Linked DNA regions of Homo sapiens. The protein of the gene in region 1 interacts with the protein of each later gene in a biochemical or structural test. Each region holds a gene or a part of one and is shown on either strand. Other genes may lie near its edges. The genes, in order: CHRM3 and RGS7.

Region 1 (10,630 bases):
ACTTGAGGTCAGGAGTTCGAGACCAGCCTGACCAACATGGTGAAACCCCGTTTCTACCAAAAATACAAAAATTAGCCAGGCGTGGTGGCACACGCCTGTAATCCCAGCTACTTGGGAGGCTGAGGCAGGAGAATCGCTTGAACCCAGGAGGCAGACGTTGCAGTGGGCCAAGATCATGCCATTGTACTCCAGCCTGGGTGAAAGAACGAAACTCCATCTCAAAAAGAAAAAAATACATTATTTATATAATTTCACTAACCCAGACTGCAAAAGTCTCCTATTGATTCAAAGTTGTAATCTTTTATTGTCTTACATTCTACTTTTAAGTTTCTTCTTCATAAGATACAGTCTCCTTTGCTGCTATCTCTAGGTTCCTCAAACATACTCCTGTCCTCCCTCTACCCAGGAAAATGACCTTCCCGAGTTCCACAACAGAACTATTTCTTAAATGACAAATATGGTATCAGTAACAAACATTCATCATTATGAAGACTTATCTCTCCAAAATTTCAAAGGGAATATTGATGTTTACTTCTAAAAGAATTTTCTTTTCAACAAATGCTTTATTGTGTGCCCCCAGTTACTGGCATTCTAAGACACGGCTCACATAACATTTTCCTTTTGTTTTTCACACTGCTTCTTCCTAAATTGTAGTTTTATTAAATACACTAAAATTTTTGGTATATCTTTTACAACATTTTCTATATATATATAGAAATATATATAGATATATTTTTATAGAATATATATTTATATATTTTATAGAAATATATATATATATATATAAATACATGTATTTTTTGAGACAGAGTCTCGCTCTGTTGCCCGGGCTGGAGTGCAGTGGCACGATCTCCGCTCACTGCAACCTCTGCCTCCCGGGTTCAAGAGATTCTCCTGCCTCAGCCTCCCAAGTAGCTGGGACTACATGCATGTGCCAGCACGCCCGGCTAATTTTTTGTATTTTTAGGAGAGAAGGGGTTTCACTGTGTTAGCCAGGATGGTCTCAATCTCCTGACCTCCTGATCCACCCATCTCGACCTCCCAAAGTGCTGGGATTACAGGCGTGAGCCACCACACCCGGCCACAACATTTTCTATATTTTTATTTCAAATTTATATTCATTAATGGAACAAAAAGTAATATACCTATACATATGTGTGTTAGATGATAGATAAATATGTACACATTCAGAATTCAAAATGAGTCACCTATTCTTTATGGAGCAAAATAATTTGAAAACTTACATTTCAGTATAAAATTGCAATCTGAGAGTTCACGTCATCAAATATGATAATTTTAACTTGTCATCAAAGATAAATGATTACTACTTCACCCGCAGTTCATCACTCAACATTAGCCTAAAGACATAAGTATAGCTTGGAACTTCCGGGGTAGTATTTGTGTCTTACTGTTACAGATCCGAAGTCTAGCACAATCTGAGGAGCAGAGAGAGAAATTGCTGAATAAAGGCATATTTAAGTGATCAGAAATTCAAAGCAAACATATTTCTACATTGCTAGGCCATTTTAAGCAGATTGGTTTTTATGCAGTTAAATCAGTCAATCTTTTGGAATAAGTTGCAGATTTTAAGAAGAGGAGATAGATTTACATTTAAAGTCAAGTTGCAAGAGTCTATTATTATCCCAGTTTTGTATAGAGTAAATGTTAGAATATGTATAGAAAAATATCAGAGGCAATCCTGTCGTGACATCAAACTGTTAACCATAGTTGTCTTTGGGGGCATTGGGTTATGGTGGACTTTTACTTTTGATATATATTTCCATAATGTTTGAATTTTTGTATGACATATATTACTTTTATAAGGAGACAAACAACAAAAACACTATATTTACTCTTTTCGAGACTGGATCTTGTTCTGTTGCCCAGGCTGGAGTGCAGTGGCACCATCACAGCTCACTGCAGCTTTGAACTAATGGGCTCAAGGGATCCTCCTTGCCTCAGCCTCCCATATAGCTGAGACTACAGGCAGGTGCACAATCAAATCCAGCTGATTTTTAATAATTTTTGTAGAGATTTTTTTTGCTAAGTTGCCCAGGTTGGTCTTCAACTTCTGGCCTCAAACCATCCTCCCACCTCAGCCTTCCAAAGTGAGCCACTGTGCCTGTTTACATATTTTATATGCGAATGTGCACACTGAGCATTTATGAAGAAGACTCTGCACTAGATACTTGAAAGCAGTCAAAGACCAACAAAACACAGCATCTTTCAAGGAGTTCACAGTCTGATATTTCAAACAATTTGTGGCACACACACACTAAAACCAAGAGTGAATGTAATCAGGGATAAAAGTGAGATTCTGATAGAGTAACAGAAGATGAATTCGTTTCAAGTGGTCCTTGACAAATTGCTAAAATTTGGATCCCTGATGATGTGGCACAAAGGGCATCCTATGCAGCAAGAGAACGTGGCAGAGGATGAGGATACCTGCAACAGCAAGTACCAGGGTAAAGTGAAGGGTGACCTTGAGACTTGAGACTGAACTCAACATGCAAACCCAAGCCATGAAATAGGGTGAAGCTGATGCGAGACATTTAGTCTTTATTCAACAGGCAATGGAAGGTGATGTCAAAGAAGGTGTTCAAGGGTAGGAGAAAGATGATCACATTTGGTCCTCAATAACAGTAATCTGTGTAAAATGGATCAAAGGCAATAATATGATCAATGAGATCATCTGGGAAGCTCAGAGACTAAGAAAAGATACAAAGCTAAAACATAAAGCCTTTCTTCTCAGTGTGGTCTGAGCACAGAGGAGCAGTATCTGCATCACCTGAAGGCTGGTTAGAAATGCAGATTCTCAGGCCCCAACCCAGCCCTCATGGATCAGAGTCTGCATTTTATCAAGATCCCTATGTGATCTGAATGCACATTTAAGTTGCAGAAATGATGAATTAAGATATTGGTAGCAGGAGGGGAAAGTAGCCAAGAAGGTTGAGATCTTACTTGGTTGAATCATTAGAATTCGGTACCTGGCTAAATGTAGGAGGTGAGGGAAGAGAATAAATCAAGATCACTTGATTTATTCATAACATTTGAGCTGTAGGATGGTCATGCTATTCATAGAAATAGGAACCCCAGGAGGGGAACAGGATGAGGAAGAAGGAGGGGAAGGCTGTGCTATCCAGCAAGCACATGGAAATGCTCCTTACTGAAGCCAAGTGACCCACATGGAAAGGGTATTTGAAATCGTGAAGACAGAGGCAGGTACAAAAGGAGAGGCAACGGAAGAGTATGGGAGTCAACCAGGGAGAAATTGCTGGAAAGCCCTACACTCTGCAGAAAATAGGGGTGGGGAACAGGAAGAAGAGAAAAGAACCAGAGGAGAGAAGAGAGCTAGGTAGGTATAATTCTCTGAAAATTAAGGGAGTTTAAAGGGATTGCTAAGAGATTAACCAGGACAGACAAGGAAGGGCTACCCGTTTTATGACTAAGAGGTTACAGGTGACTTTTGGAGAAGTCATTGCTATAAACCTCATGAAGGTGGATGAGAGGAGTCAAAAGATTTAAAGTCAGAGGGTAATGAGATTAGGGGAGTGTGATTGCTGTTCGGTGAGTGTAATTGAAAAGGTTAAGAAAAATCATGAAAATTTAGAAGTGGCACATAGGACCAGGTTGAAATAACTTTAAACTTCTCAACTTTAAAGATTTTCTTGTGGAAGAAAGATCAGAAGTGTTCTCATCATAATTCTCAGAATTATTAAGAAGGCAAATAAGTACAATGAGAATTAGATTTTTGGCTCAATATAAAGGGGATCTGCATCTCACTGCTCTGTGAAAATGGAATGACCCCCCTGGTGAGTGTTAATTTCTCAAACATACAGACTGCACAGTTTAACACAAGAGAGAGGTCCAAAGCCAAAAGTTGTTCATTAATGACATCTGCAGTGGTCTGAATGGCGGTCCCTCCAAAAGATGTGCCCACCTCCTAATCCCCAGGTTCTGTGATTACCTTATATGACAAAAGATGTGATGTGATGAAGTTAAAGCTCTTGAAAGGAGGAGCTTATCCTAGATTTTCTGGCTGGGACTTCACTGCAATCACACATATCCTTATAAGACAGGCATATACAGGAGGAGACAGTGAAAGAGGTGGAGGAGGCAACGTGACCACAGAAGCAGAGATTGGAATGATATGCTCACAAGTCAAGGAATGCAGATAGCTACCAGGAGCTGAAGGAAGAAAGGAAGGATTCTCCCCTAGGGTCTTTAGAGGAAGTGCAGTCTTGCCAACACCTTGATTTCAGACTTCTGGCTTCCAGAATTGTGAAAGAATAAACTTCTGTTTTAAAACCTAAGAAATTCACGCAACATCTAACATCCCCTTCCAACCCAGATTTGTTTAGTTACACTCACATTGATCATATGCTCTGAAAAGCAGAGCCCTTGACTTACTGTGTATCCAAAACAGAATGTCCATGGTACTTTGCACATTAGATGATACTGATATGAAAGATGTGATAATGGATGTATATACAACACCTATGTAAATGAACATAGGTGGATTAGATATAAAGAGATAGATAATTGATAGGTAGATAGATGGAATGATTGAGTCATTTACTCATTCTACTCAAACATGTATTTATTATATATTTACTTATATACTCTCATGAAGGTAACTTCTTTGGAGAGAATCAAAATAAATACTACCTGGGTTATCCTTGAGCATCAAATTTTATATTAAAAATGGTGAGTGCCACTAGTATTCAGAGTAGAGGGAAGTGATTTGTAGTTGTTTAGTCAGACCGATTTTCAGTTTCTAACATTCAAATGAATCAAGGGATTTAAAATAATTAGTCACAGGGAAAAACAGAATGATAGCTGCGCTCAAGGAAAGCTGGAAGAGTTTGGCTGGTCCTTGCATGATGGAAAGGATCTGGGGTGAGGAGAGAAGAAAGGAGGACTCCATATAAAGAAACATCATGGCCATTCCAGATTCCCATCACCTCTCCCTTCACACAAGCTACTGCATGTGGCATGTGTTATCGGGCATGTGAGAAAGCACAGGAAACACGGCAGGAGGATCATCACGTCTATTTCAAGTATGAGAACTTCTTTTCAATGTAAATCGTTTGAGAGACCTCCCACAACAGAAGTTGTGCTTTTAGACTATTTTGCACTAAGAAAATTGAAAAATCACAAAAAAGACTGTGTTCAATAACATTTTTAAATGACTATGGATATACATTTAAATATAGTCATCAACATATTGTCAATTTGAAGCCAAAAACCCAACAATATTTAATATTTATATGGGATCTTCTTTCTTTCTTTCTTTATTGAAGAGATGGGGGTCTTGCTATGTTGTCTAGGCTGGAGTACAGTGGCTATTCACAGGTGCAATCATAGTACATTATAACCTTGAACTCCTGGCCTCAAGTGATCTTCCTGCCTTAGCCTCCCGAGTACCTGGGACTACAGGTGTATGCCACTATGCTCAGCCAAAATTTATATGGATTGTGAGTCTACAAAATACCACTGGATTAGGTTTCAATGGAAGTGAGAGCTAGCTCGATGGAATGTCAAATGGCTGTGGGCAAGAATTGGCCTGTATGTATTAATAGTTAGCAGTAACCAGGTTTCCCTCCAGTCTGGATCCCATGGGCAATTCTAGTGGGAGAAAATGTACTCCAAAGTGACAAGTCTTAAAAAATGTAGACAAAGGCTGTTAGCAGCTCCTTTTTCCTACAGTTTAGTGACAGAATATTTTTATATGTATCTATGTCTATAGCCATAGCTACCTATGGTAAATTAGAAGGCTTCAGTAGAAGAGCACCAAAACACTTCACAGCCATAAATGCAGGGAAGTACACACTTGGTAGCCCCTCTCTCTGGGAACTCTCTCCAAAACAGGCTGAAAGTATTTCACCTTGGTTTAAACTCACCTGAATTTTATCTGAACAGCAGTAGTCGGCGGATATCCTGCCTGAACCAGGATGTCTACATTAGCACCACTTCCTGTGCTAGAGGTGACAGAAGGTAGACGATGTCATGGCTCAGCTGGCATGCCAAATTTCAAGGGAACAGTGGGGACAGGAAGCAGGCTAGGACTGGGCTAGAACAAATGACCTAATGAAGGATTAATTCTGTAGTGGATAGTCAGCCACTCAAATTACATTGCTTGGGAGAGGTGTGGAGAACTGAGATTTGATCCTGCCAACAATGACAGACAAGGAGAATTTATTTGTCAAGTGGAACCGGGCACTACAAGTCTCAGGCGGAAATGATGCACTGTCAGGAGAGGAGCTGTGCCTTAGGTCCAAGGGTTTGTCACACTGAGATTGAATCAGAGACAGAATAGAAAGAAAGGGGTCTTGCTCCTGGAGAGAAGTTCTTGGCAAGGGCGAGGCTGACTGCCAAGGTCATAGCTAAAATTTTCCCAGGCCAGACATTAAATCCAGTACTGAAAGTGCAAATTGAAAACTCAATAAAATCCTAGTCCTACGAAATGGTAAATATGACAGGAGTTAGAGAAACTGAGGTGAGGGGGGCATGAGAATTGCTAGAGCTCACTAGGGTTAGGACAGACTCTGCACTGGTTGTGGAATCAGAAGGGCCAGGCTCCTGAGTCCCATGCAGAGCAGGCTTGGAAAGGCAAGGTCTCAAAGCCCACAAGGCATCTGCCAGCTACTGTTTATCAAATTGGTTTTTGTTTTTTGTTTTTAATTTTTGGCCACCATTGTTTTTCTCAAAGTGTTCATATTCCGGATGGCTTCAGGATGAACTGGCACAATTGGTGAGAAGCTGGCAGGGGCTCAGAATATTCCTTCTGTTGACTTCCTGTCATCACTACTGGACCCTAGGTCTGTGTCAATGTGGCAAGCTGCAGCTGCAGCCTCAGCAGAGGAAGCTAAGAAGGTGCACGTCAGCCAGAGTCCTTGGCCTTCAGGAGGGGATGAGCGGGAAGTTCCAACAGGTGGGAGAATGCAGATCGCCAGCCTAAAAGAGAGAGCCTGCCAGAGGCTGGGGAATCTGCAAGCTGCCAAAACTTCTGGATAGAAAACAACACACAGAGGCCAAAAACTGAGCCAGAGGGCCACTACATACTGGCGCTCAGTGCTGTCCATCATGGTGTACTGAGGGGGCTCTGGGTTCCAATCAAGCACTGCATTTCAGAGTTTGTTCAAAAAGCACATCCACATGCACTGGATTCTCAAAACCAATCCATGGTATGGACAGGGCAACTACTATGGTCTTCAAGTGTACAGTGGGGAATGAAATGTTTGAGGTCACACAGTTATCACATAAGCCACATTATGGTTTAATATTTTCAATTGCTTCACCAAACCAAAATTACTATTATGATGATGATTATGTAGAGACAGAGTCTCAGACTCTCGTACAGGCTGGAGAGCAGTGGCATGATCCTGACTCACTGCAGTCTCGAACTTCTGCATTCAAGCTATCTTCCCACTGCATCTTCCTTAGTAGCTAGGAATACAGGTGCACGCCACCATGCCTGGCTAAGTTTTTACACTTTTTGTAGAGATGGGGTCTGGCTATGTTGCCTAGGCTGATCTTGATTTCCTTGCCTCATGTAATCCTCCTGCCTTGGCCTCCCAAACTGCTGCCATTACTGGCATGAGCCACTGTGCCCAGACCAAAATTATTTTTATTTCTTGCATTGAAGACAACACTAATGGAGATCTATACTGTCTGGGGCATGCAACTGCTAGGGAAGGTAGCAGGCTAACAGAGCTCTCCAGGTGCTAGTTCACTGATGAAAAGGGAAGCCTTTCATGAGGCAGAGAATTGCTTGAACCTGGGAGGCGGAGGTTGCAGTGAGTCAAGATCATGCCACTGCACTCTAACCTGGGCGACAGAGTGAGACTCCATCTCAAAAAAAAAAAAAAAAAGTGAGGGAAGCCTTTCATACCTGCACACCCTCTCCGTGGAGGGTGGGCAGAGGGAGCAATGCAGTGATGAGTGATTTGAAGAAATACTCTGCTTAGCATTTGATCTGAACAAAGATATATTCCCTAATGGAGAAGATAGGGCCTTTCAGACACCAGAAACTAACTTCTAATTTAACTGATTTTGCCTCCTGTCATATACATTAGATTATCTCTTCATAAAATTAAAACTTTCCATTGATGTTGAAATTTTATTCCAAAGTTCTGAAAGGCTAGTAATTTTTCAGAACAGGGCTTCTGCTGGACTTGCTGAACTTTATAGATGAAAAATATATTGCATCTAGGAAAACACTATATTAAACAATTAAGCATAAAGGCACATTTTATTATGCTGATTAACTTTTAAAAGTAAACGTGGTAGAGGGATTTGATTACAATTTTATTAAGCTCATAGATACCTTTTACAATAGTCTTATGTAAGGAGAATACATTTTAAATTCACAAACATAAAAGACAACATCTCTAGTTACTCACTGATCCTCCAAAATCACACTGTGAGAATAATGCTATTAGTCATCATATGATATAAAATCAGGTTCCATAAGTGAAGGACAGATACACTTCTCTGCATACTGATCAGTCTCCATCTTCATATGATTCACGGTTCATTCATCTCCTATCTAAAGTGCCACTACACCACAGCTGTTCCCAGTATAAACTTCCCGGCACTGCAAACAAGACCCAATTTCTTAATAGTCACACTGGAATCGTCCAGGCCATTTAGCAGTAAGCAACTGAGCTTGCCAATGTTAACAAAGTTATTAGGCAAGAACAATATGTTGGCTGGGAAAATGACAGAGATTTTAACTAAAAATCTGAAAATATGTATTACTTTATAATTTACAAATACATAAGGCAACTTTGCTTTTAACCATATCGTTTAACTTTCTGTCTATTCAATTTACAAGTGTGAATCTAAGAAATTCTATGTCTGCCAATTTCACATTTTTTCCATGCCCTCTTTCAACAGGTTGCCTGCAATTAAAGGCTAAAATATCATTAAAAGAACTTCACATTTTTACATACTCTAATTTATAACAAATTTTCTTTGTTAAGAAATTAAATCATTTGTCTTTATAAGGAAAAAATGAGAAGGTACACTCTAAAGAACTTTTACACATGCCTAAATAATCTTCAGAAGTAAATAATACTTTTGAAGTGACATTTTACTTCCCCCTACCCCAGAATAAAAGTAGGGTACTGAATATTCATCATAGATTTCTCTAAATTTTAAAGCAAACTTTCCTAAATAAGCTTAAATGTAGGTTTAATACAGAACTACTCATTATAACACTTGTTCTTTCTTTAAAACTTGACCAATTCCACATTTGCTCCTTTTCCCAAATTACATTTTTCCCTTACAATAATTTTCCACACAGAAAATTTATAAAGATTTTTCAAAGTCTACTTTTTATCTCATTTTCTTTTTCAACTGTCATGTTCATTCGATTAATGACGCAACGTTATTTAAAAAACAATATTTCGACATTGCTATTTTCGTGCTACATTCGATCTCATAATACCCCCCAACCTAGAGAAACATTCTAAATCCGACCGGCAATGTCATTATTTTTAAATTAGTAATTAAGCGAACGTTATATTTCCATATGGAAACCACTACAAAAATAACGTGCTTTCTAGCCCAACAATAGCTAATTATGTATTAAGCTAATTGAGACAAACCATGTAAACAAAATCTAAAGATAGACTATTCGGCGGTAGAAGCTATGATGTAAACCACATTTCTGTGGCATGTTGGAATGCACACTGAAGAAGCAGGCATGTTCCTTGCACATGTATACTTCGGGATATCAGCTCTTATAACAAGAGGGTGCACTCAACACCTCGTCTATCCCACAATATTTGGAACAGAAATACCTTAGTTTTTTATTAACGTGCTACCACTACAATACGCTTATATGCAGGTATCTGCTCTAGGTTTAGTTTTCCCCTTTCTGAACTATATGTTCATAGTCTCTCTTAAGTAAATACATGGGCATTGTTTTAAACACAGGAAATAATGATGAATGGTTCATGCGATATAACGATCTCACAATATGAAATTATCTGGACTATATAATCACTGCACCCAGTTAAAAATTATTTTTCAAATAGTAACCTACAAAGGTCAAAATGGGGGGAGGGGACAGGTTATCTGTCTTGGAACTCAGAGGGCAAGAGAGAAAGGAAAAGTCTGTGCAAAGCATATGGTGAAATAACCAGTGTTCTTAACCACACATCGCTTTGATAAATACATTTTTGTCCTAAAGAGGGCCGCCCTTTCACATTGCAAACACGGACACTGGCGGGGATCGAGGGGACATATCCTTGCAGCCTTTGGACAGGTTCCAGTAACACTTGCAGACAAATGAAGGTTTGCATTCTTGAAACCTATCCATATGGATGCAGTTCCCAAATCCCTGCTGCCTCTACCACTTCCAAATGCGTGCAAGGAGAGTCGGACACACGCACAAGCATGCAGAACAGGATCTCAATTCCAGCACGCACACCGCGAAGTAGACAAGTGAATTCTGCTGCTGGAGTCAACTGTCCGCCCGCCCCCGCCGTTTAAAAACACGCAAAAATTAACCTCGCTATTAGGAGGCTATGCTGAGGAAGTGTTCCAAAGAGGAGAACCGGTGCAGTCCAGCGGCCGCTGCCTCGCGAGTGCAGACTCTCCCCGGGTCAGTAAAGATGCG
Region 2 (10,630 bases), 1.4 Mb from region 1:
TTGGGAGCCGAGGCAGGTGGCTCTCTTGAGGCCAGGAATTTGAGAGCAGCCTGGCCAACATGGCAAACTCCATCTCTACAAAAAATTAAAATTAAAATTAACCGGGCATGGTGGCACATGCCTGTAGTGCCAGCTACTGGGGAGGCTGAGGAATGAGAATCGCTTAAACCCAGGAGGTGGAGGTTGCAGTGAGCTGAGATTGCACCACTGCACTCCAGCCTGGGCAACAGAGCAAGACTCTGTCTCAAAAAAAAAAAAAAAAAAAGAATGCATTAAAAATAAAGCAGAGATAAAGGATCCTTGAGGCATTTTAGTGGCTAGGGAGATGGACATTCCTCTCATTCTCTAAGTTTTTGAAAACATGCTGATATCATTTGTATCATCATGAGTAAATAAATAAGTAATAAGCCTTACCAGCCTCACCTAGCCAAATAAAAACATCGCCTTCTCTCATTAAAATTACAGTCTATTGGTAGATACAGACAAGAAAACAAATCACAGCACAAAATCATGGGTGTTTAGTTGGGAGAAGCAGAGAGGGATGCCTAGCCCAGAGTTAGAGATCAGCGAAGGGATACTAGGGGAAATCGCTTCTAGGCTAAGAGCTGGACAATGGGGAGGAGATAAACCATCAAAACAGGAAGAGAGAAGATGCCTTTGGAAAAAGAGGATAGCATGTGCATACTAGGTTTCAGGCATGAATTGAATTCCTGCCAATTTCTTAGTTCAAGCTTTAATCATTTCATATCTTAATCATTCTATGCCGTACTAGACTCTAGGCTAAGTGATTATATCTAAGAAATATTAGATTATCTTATATATATACACACACATTATATACATACACACATATACATATATTTCTTGAGTATCTACTATATTGCCTATCATATGTTTCCTTAGTAAGTATAGATCAGTAGATAAATGAAAGATGTAGATTAATTCTTGAATACCTACAAGACACCAGAATATATTTTATATCTACTACTTTTATAAGTATGCTGTTATATTTTGCATTCATTATTTCTGATCATCACACATCCAACCACCAAAACAACATAAAATGTAAATATTGCCTCATTTTATAGATGAGAAAAGCGTGGCTGAGGAAGGTTAAGCCGAGAAAGTGTGGCTAAGGAGGTCAGATTGCATGTAAGTGGCATTCTTGGTTTCCTACAAACCAGTACCAAGCTACTGTCCACTGCTCCCCAAATCTGAGCCCTACTCTGCTTCCACTGACATATCTGTGTCACACACTGAAGGAGACAAAATGGTCCAGTGGTCAACAGGGCTGTGAATTGCACTTAAAATAAAATAACTCTCCGTGCATCTTACCTAAACAGCTGCCCTCCTGCTATCAGTGAGTGTGTCACTCGTCTGAGCATTTTTTTTCAAATATTAGGACAGGAAAAAAATAAGAAGCACTGTTTCTCGATAACTACTTATGCTTCAAATATACCCTCTGCTCTCCCTAATAGAGAGCAGAAACTTGAAATTTTATGATGTATTTCCCTCATTCTTTTTTTTGAGCAAAACACATAGCATAGAGCAAGTGCTAAGAAAACATAGTAATATCATGAGTTTTTATCTTTGAGTGACTAAAAATATGCCAAGTACTTTTCAGTGCCTTCTATATAATTTATATCATTAGTATACATTAACGGAATTAATTTAATCAACTAATCCAATGGAAACCAATTAATCCAGTGGAAACCCAGTGAAATAGGCGTTATCATCCCATTTTACTGATGAGGAAATCAAGAATCAAAGACATTAAAAATACTTACTTAGCTTCCACCTATATAAAGGATATAGGATTTTTTTTTTTTTTTAAGAGAGATGGGATCTTTCTCTGACACCCAGGCTGCAGTTCAGAGACACTGTCATAGCTCATAGCAGCCTTGAAATCCTGGGCTCAACTGATCCTCCCACCTCAGCCTCCTGAGTAGCTAGGACCACAGGTGCAAGCCATTGCACCTGGCTCCTCCATGCTATTAAGCTATTACAATAATTACAGTAATGGTGAGAATAAGAAAGGCAATGATGCTGTTAGAAAGACCGTGTGAGGGAGTGGTTGTGAGCATGTCATCTGCTGCAGATCTTCTGGGAGCAAACCTCAGCTGTGACAGTAATAGTGAGCAACCTTAAATAAGCAACTTAATCTTCATATGCTTAGTTTCCTCTTCTCTAAAATGAGGGAAATAATAGAACTTGCCTAATAGAATTACTGTGGGAATTAAATGAGTTAATATAGGTGAATCACTTAGAGCAGTGCCTGCACTTACATAACAGTGTAGGTGTGGTTATTAACTTCTCAACCCCTTTATATTTTATGCTTATTTCCAGGCCCATTTCAGATGTCACTGGATTTAGAATAGCTTTGTCTAGATCCCCCTTTTCCAATCCAGCACTTGCCCCAGCAGAGGGGCTCTTTCCTGCTTGCCTTTCCCAGACCGTCTAGTTCGTTCTCTTCCTAGAGAGCCATTCATGTACTTCCTGGTGTTACGGCCAATTAAATGGTTTATCTTTTTCTCTACTCATTCTTTGAGGACAGAGACTGTTTTGATTGATGTGTTCAGAGTGTGCTGGCATGAACTTGCCTGAGCATATGTTAATTTCAACACTTCTGCTCCCTCGGATTATGCGTAGTATTCCCTTTTTTTTTTTTTTTTTTTGAGATGAAGTTTTGCTCTTGTTGCCCAGGCTAGAGTGCAATGGCATGATCTCTGCTCACTGCAACCTCCACTTTCCGGGTTCAAGCGATTCTCGTGCCTCAGCCTCCCGAGTAGCTGGGATTATGGGCATTCGCCACCACACCCAGCTAATTTTTGTATTATTAGTAGAGATGGGGTTTCACCATGTTGGCCAGGCTGATCTCAAACTCCCGACCTCAGGTTATCTGCCCGCCTCAGCCTCCCAAAGTGCTGGGATTACAGACGTGAGCCACCATGCCCAGCCTCGCATAGTATTCCTATTAGAGTGCACAGTGTCTAAATCTGTGTTTTAAGAGGGAAAGGTCTTGAGCCTTCCTTTCTAAAAGTCATGGTGGTAGTTTCCTGTTTGAGGCGTTGTCAAACTTAGATTATCCTCTGCTACATATATCTATAAAAAAACAAAATCTGGAAATGAAAACTCAAAAATCACTAGACTGAGTAGTAGTTGATATTCTAATTCTAGCTCATGCACTTCATTACTGATTTCTGATTATTTATTAATGGTCAAGTTAAAGCTTAGTAGTTACGAAGGTACTGCTGATCACCTGTGCCTCTCTTAAGACTCTGTAGCCTGAAGTTTGCTGTCTCTGTGGCCCTCTTTGCCTTTCTTTGACTTCGTCTACTATTAGAGCAGTAAGAGTGTTTATGGAGGATAACACAGTCCTAGCAGCTCCTTTTTCTAGTAGAGTGTTTGTTTCTATTAACAAATTATGATATACTCATTTATCTTTTAAACATTATTTCTAGAGATCTAACCAGCAAGCTCTAGCCTAGAGCAAAATATTGAAGAAATGCAACCGATTAATACAATGTGGCCCCTTCTCACTAGACTTTACCACTTGCTATTATCAACCAAAACACACTCCCAGGTTCTTTCAGTATACATATGGTATAAATAAGTCTATCTTCAGAAGTAAGTCAGTATATATTATTCCGTGGCTTCTGAATTGCAATGATGCCTCTACACATTTCAACTTTTCAAATAATTCCATGTGAAAGCTTGCTGCTTTGGTCATTCCATAACTCTCTCAATTAAATTACCTTAACATTAGTTAATTGTTTTTATTTTTCCAGCCAGAGCATTTTCTGATCTTATGTCCAGGCCTCTTTTAACTCCAGCAAAGCTTCTTTGTAATTCCCTTACCACCTAGAACAGAAAAGGCTCTCCATACTAGCCCCCATTGCTGAAATGGACAGAACATCCAAAGAACACAGTGTAATGCACAGCTTTATCTCCCAATTGGAGGCTCCATGTCCCACACCTTTAATTCCCTTCAAACTCCTCTTTGTTTTCAATCAACAGTCAGAAGTGCTACTTTCCTTAGGTAAAATCAGTGTTATACGGGGCTCTGACAGATCTGCTTTTAACAACAAACACTTAGAAGAGAGAGTTTTTCATGTTTCTTTATATTTTTATTAATATTTTTTATTTATATTTTTAAAATATTTTTATTAATATTTTTATATTTTTATTAATAATTATTTTTCATAATAATCTTCCAAAGAAGATTATCCTTTGAACACAGTCAGTACCACCCTGATACTGGAAGCCCTCAGAGAAAGTGAGCTGGCTGTGAGTCGTCATGATGAACTGCATGATCCGTAAATGTCACAAGAATTTTCAGATGATGGGCCATCAGAGTAAACACCCGATCTCACATTCTGCATAGATTCTGGCTGGCAGTGGAGGACCTGAAAAAGAGGCCTATTAAAGAAGTACCCTCAAGAGTTCAGGAAATATGGCAAGAGTTTCTGGCTCCCGGAGCCCCCAGTGCTATTAACTTGGATTCCAAGAGTTATGACAAAACCACACAGAACGTGAAGGAACCTGGACGATACACATTTGAAGATGCTCAGGTGGGTGTACGGTGAGCCTCACACCACAAACGTGCTTCCGAGAAGTTGAGCGTTAGATGTATTCATTTTATTTTCATTCTAAATGGCAGCTATTTCTAACATTTTCAATTTAGATAACTGTAAAATAACTCTAACTGATCTAGGAAGGAACAAAGACACATTAAACTGAATAGTTTTTTTAAAACCTGGGAATATTTTCTAAGTTTGAATATTTTTATATGAAGGGGCATATTTGAAATATTTTACAACTTTTACTTCATTTTCTACTCTGTTTGTCCCCCCAGTAAGTGAGCAAACACCATCTAATGATGACCCCACCTCAGTAAAAGATTTTTTAAAACATTTTTTTAAAAAGATTTAAAATCTTTAAGGCATCTTCAATGTAGACATTCTAAGACTCTGACATTCCTGAATTATTCATTATTATAAATTATTCAAACTGAATTAGCTTAAAGTTATGTCAAACTCAAACCAGTTTTATCTCTGGTGAAAAAAAAAATCAAACATTAGATTCTGACATTTCTTAAATTTTCAAGTTAATTTTTTAGCCTACAGAAAGAAAAAATAAGGAAAACTGATTCTAACTTCCTAAGGCAAATTTTCAGTCATCTTTTCTCAAACTGGATCTTAATTCCCTTTGTAGAAACAACTTGAATTTCTGCCTTCTCTCAAAAAATGTTGAAACTTAAGAAGAAAAATAAACTTGTAATGAGGGGATAGTGTTTCCTAATAATGTGGTATTTTATTTTATTTTATTTTATTTTTGGAAACAAGTTCTCTCTCTGTTACCTACAGTGGCATGATCATGGCTCGCTATAGCCTTGGCCTCCCAGGCTTAAGCAATCCTCCTACCTCAGCCTCCCAAGTAGCTGGGACCATAGGCATGCACCACCATGCCTGGCTAATTTTTTTTTATTTTTTTTTGTAGAGACAGGGTGGGTCTCCCTATGTTGCCCAGGCTGGTCTCCAACTCCTGGGCTCAAGCAATCCTCCCACCTTAGCCTCTCAGAGTGCTGGGATTACAGGCATAAGCCACTGCACCCACTCCCTAATGATGTGTTGAAGTTGGTTTTTAAATCAGAACGTGCATACTTCATAACTTCTTAAACTTCTTTTGGAGAAGAATATTAATTCTAAAAAGTACCTTTTAAAAAACACACATTACTAAAATAAAATATAGAAGATGAAGAATGAGATACACGAATATCCTTCCTTATTTCCACTCTCTATAGAAAATATATTTCTCCTTGGCTTTCATTTAAAGAAATCAGCAACTGTGTAGTAAACTAACATGAATTTTAACAGCTAACTGGATACCTATCCCATGTGGTTCAGCCATGGTCTCCAATGTAGAAATAATTACACTCTAGAGAGACACAGGACAGAGAGCAGGCCAGAAACTCTGGCCCTGCTGCTCACTTCTCTGCTGATTTTTCTTTCTTTCAGTCCAAGATAAAATGCCGAGCATCTTTCTAGAGCCAACAATGTGGAAAATGTTTGGAATGCCCTTCCTGAGGTTTAAAATAGAATTTTTTTTAGTTATCGGTGTCATTTAAAAATATTCTTGCCTAAGAGGATCCTCTTTTCTTACAGAAAAAAAAATTCTATAGAAAACAATACCACTTGGCCCTAGATTTCTTTTTCAGTTAAGCTCAGATATTTAATTCTAGTTTTTTTTGTGGTTTTTAAAAAAAATCTGATCGTAAGGTAAATTGCCTGGGTTCTGATTTCAGCTCTGCTCTGTGACCACTTCTCCACGCCTCAGTTTCTTCACCTGTAAAATGGACATAATGGTTACCAACCCCATAGGGGTTTTGTAAGGCTTATATTAACTAATACAGGAAAGCACTTAAAAGAGTACCTGCCATATACCCAAGTATATTTGAGCACTTACTATCCACACCCCATGCTTTGCTACACATTTATTATTCCTTTAATCATCACAACAATGCTATTTTATAGATGAGAAAATTAAGGATCAGAGAGATGAAAAAGTTGGCCTATATTTATCCCATTTGTAAGTGGTAGTTCTTGAGCAAGGTAGAATGTGAATCTCAAAATGCTTAACTCCAAAACCAGCCATTGCTCTACTTTTCAAACAAATTCCCATACAGTTCCAAACTTAACATCCTTTGAAGATCACCATTGGGCTAAGTCTTGAGATTTAATCCTGAATGTCTTTAAATGAATTTAAAGTAACTTCAAATTATTGCTGTTGTGTTTAAGACCAGAGAACTGGAGTCATTTCTTGAAACATCTATTTTCTTCAAGAAAAAAAAAAAGAAAGAAAAGAAAACTGGAACATTCAGAATGCTCTCCAATAGTTCCAAGCTCTACACCTAACTGATATTTCACTAGAGTTGGAAGATCAAGGCACATGTTAGCTCCCTGAGCTGCGGTAGACCAGAGTGGAACCTCCCTAGATTGGGTCTAGATTGAATTGAATGAGTACCTTTTTCCTTTTTTTTTTTTGACTTGTCTATCAAAATTCATCATCAAAACAGAATATTGCAAACTTCTTAGGGGCAAATGATCAACTATTTACCTAATCTGTCACTGGGTAAGTAATAAGAAAGAGCACACAAATTTGGAGATTTAGCAATTAAATATCACAAAATTTATTTTTGGACTTGTGCTCTGACCCAAAGTGGGTATGGAAGACAATTTTCCATGCAATTTGTACCAAAGAGATGATTTGATTCTTCTGGGTAGTTGGCACCCTCCCAGTAAATGTAGAGGCCAAAGGTATCCAGGATGATTACTCAGTCTGAGTCAACATTACCCACTTCAGGCCTGGAGTAGTTTTAAGAGACAGCAAATTTAGTTATATTCTCTAGTGATCTATATAAGTCAACAACTTGATTTGAGGTAATTTTATGACATTTTATTAATCAAATTCCATTTTTGTAATGACTGGATGTGATTTGCCTCCTCAGTAGCTCCTAAACCAATTTAAACAATGATCTATGAATGAGATAATGAATTTGAAGATCTAAATATCCTGTAAATAGAAGGTATTCTAATCAGCATTGTTATTACTATTTTTCGCTGCTACTAGATTTGTTCTTTAGCCATGTGTGACATCATGATATTTTACTTTTCCCAAGAAATCATAAAGAAGCACCTCAACCATTATTTCTTTTTAGGAGCACATTTACAAACTGATGAAAAGTGATTCATACCCACGTTTTATAAGATCCAGTGCCTATCAGGAGCTTCTACAGGCAAAGAAAAAGGTACTGGTTTTTTGTGAGTTGTTTTTTCTTGGCCTAGTTCTCAGTTATAATTATTTGGAGTAATTACCTCTGCTGAATCCAGGGTATTGGACTAATGGTAAGTGAACATACTCCAAGACCCTCCCCCAAACCTTTGCATTTTATAAGGGCCATTTAAGTTGTTTCTGTTTGTTTATTGCTTATTGTATTACTTTCTGTTTGTTTGTTTCTGCAGATGTTCATGCTTTGCAAAATTTATTAGAAGCTGTTTTCATGTTTCATGTTAGTCTTCTGTATGCCTAGTTTCATGGAATCAAAATTACAATAAAGAAAAGAAAGTAACAAAGTCATTAGGTCAAAAACTTGAAGAGAGGTTTCTTTGTTTAGTAAGCTAGAATGTATGTTTTGAACCACAGGCCTCATAACTGAAAGTAGACTCACCTTTTTCAATAATAGATGACAAAATGTCGGAATGTTTGCTTCCGAATATTTTTATTTGGCATTTATCCTGAATCACTTAATATCCCTGTGATGAATTTTATACACCTAGCATGGTAGCCAAGCACATTATGGGGGTATTGTAGTAGACCTCATTATTCAACAATGTTAATAATCAATGTCTCTCTGTTCATAACTCCTTATGTAATCAATATAACAGGGAAGAGAAAATCTGGACATAAACATCAACGTCATTCATTCTTTTTAATGTTAAAATAGTTCATAGCTTCTTGAAACTCTGAGTTTAAATTATAATTTTGTGTAGTTCATGATCGTCATGTAGGCTAATAAGATTTTTAAAAGTCCATTGCCTTTACAACTAGAAATGGATACTTTGTAGTAACACTATCCAGTACAGCAGTCACTAGCCACGTGGGACTGTTTAAATATTAGTTAATTAAAATTATATAACATTCTAGCCAAATTTCAAGTGCTCAGTAACCACAGCTAGGGGCTTCTGTATTGGACAGCATAGAATGAGATTTCCATCCTTTTGGAAAGTTCTATTAGACATTAATGCTCTATGGAATTAATGATGTTGTCAATAGGAATTTTTTCTCATAAAAGTTTTGAGGAAATTCTGAGGATATGCTGCTAGATTTTTAAATATTTAGGCTCTGCAAATGTCAGTATAAAGGCTTCACATATCCACTTTATTTTGGCTGAATTTGATTTTGCTTGAATCACACCATTTTGTTTGTACAAGGAAAGTTTTTGGTGTAAGCAGAGCCCATGTCCTGTGAGAAGAAGCCTCCCTTGGCGGCTCTCCAACCTCTATGGGCCTTCTGATTTAGAACATGGATTTGGTGTTGCATCATTTCATTATCCTGTCTTTTTCTGCTCTGTTTTCCTTGCTTTCTTTCTTTTTTTTAATCTTCCCTTATTTCCCTTCATCCTATCCTACCCCACATACGTAAGTCTGGAAACTCAATGGATCGCAGAACATCTTTTGAAAAATTTGCACAGAATGTGGTAAGTTTAATTTTTTGAGGAATTATGAATCATTAAGTCCAATGAAATTTTTCCAATTTCCCTATTTCTAGCCCTGTTACCCACCTTGCATTCTTGATATAACAGCAAAAGTGTTTCTTTTATTCAAATTCAGAACTTCATGTTTTCTGCTTATCTTTCTGTCCCATCCCTTTCCAAAGTAGAAAAAGATGTTATATATGAACAAGTTATCTGTACAGAATTAAAGTTTGGAAAGAAGTTTATATTACAACATATAAAAGGAAGGAATAATAATTATTCTTTATATTTTATTTTTATTCCTTGTATTCCTTTCTTTATTAAAGATAGTGCATGTATTTCTATGCTCTTTCCCTTAGCCCTTCCTGAGGCTTAAAATGTTAAGAACAATGAGGGTTCTATGCGTTTTACTTCTGCAGAGAGAAAATGATCTACTGAGCAGTTTAAAATTAAAGATTTTATATGAGTGGTGGTTGGTGACAAGATATGCCCCACCAGAGACCCACTAGCCTGCCTTTCTTATTCCTTATTTTTCAGGAAGGTGTTGAAAACTGTTGCATAAATCACCTGAGAAACCAGTAGTTTTCCTACCAGTGTTTTCTTAGTATCTTGCCATGTGTTTTGATGATATATATTTGTTTGTAAGATTCTTTTTTTTGTATTGTGCCAGTGCCTTTGGAACTTTCTGACATTGTGTAAGCTCAAACTAAAGCCTTCAACACATTTATTTTTATAGGGCAGAAACATCCCTATTTTCCCATGCCATAAAAACTGTACACCAACACTGAGGGCCAGCACTAACCTGTTATGAAAAGAGGTAGAAAAATCTTGGTTTATACTCAAGTTTGTCTGCATTGTCTGTTGAGTTGTGTGGTTTAGCTCCATGCTGCTGTGTGTGTGTGTGTTGTGGCTTTTGCTGTGATGGCCAGTTCAGTGGAGTTATGTGTGTTGAAATGTGAGCAAACTGGATTCAACAAAGATAATGGCTTTTGTTTTCAGTTTCCTTCAAGGATCCTTGTGGTGGGGAATGTTACTCATTTCTACTTGTGAATTACCATTGCAACGGTACACAGAGTATTTGAAAGAATTTGAACAGTAATATATACTGTGAACATTCAATGTGATTGCATGAATTAAAGGGATGGAGAATGATGGACTCCAGGAATTAATCACATTGTAAATAAATTTTATGAAATTTTGGCTGGCACTATTGGAACCTCTGTTCTTTAATACAGAATTTTCTGAAGCATGCCTCATAAGTCACCATGGGGCAATAAAGACAATGTCAAACAATTCTCCAAGATTTTGCTGGAGAAAGTGACTATCAGATAATGTGAGGTACTCTGTGTATTGTTTAAGAAGCATTTCAAGTTAATC

The links.
Region 2: the proteins of CHRM3 (region 1) and RGS7 form a complex in vitro, tested with the Homo sapiens proteins (one study listed by BioGRID).

The regions. Positions count from the first base shown.
Region 1 is NC_000001.11:239,387,844-239,398,473, reverse strand, and holds part of CHRM3 (muscarinic acetylcholine receptor M3), read right to left. Parts: intron 1-10,630.
Region 2 is NC_000001.11:240,800,081-240,810,710, reverse strand, and holds part of RGS7 (regulator of G-protein signaling 7), read left to right. Parts: intron 1-4,384; coding exon 4,385-4,571; intron 4,572-7,717; coding exon 7,718-7,807; intron 7,808-9,202; coding exon 9,203-9,256; intron 9,257-9,989; coding exon 9,990-10,064; 3' UTR 10,065-10,070; intron 10,071-10,630. UniProt on the Homo sapiens protein: GTPase activator component of the RGS7-GNB5 complex that regulates G protein-coupled receptor signaling cascades.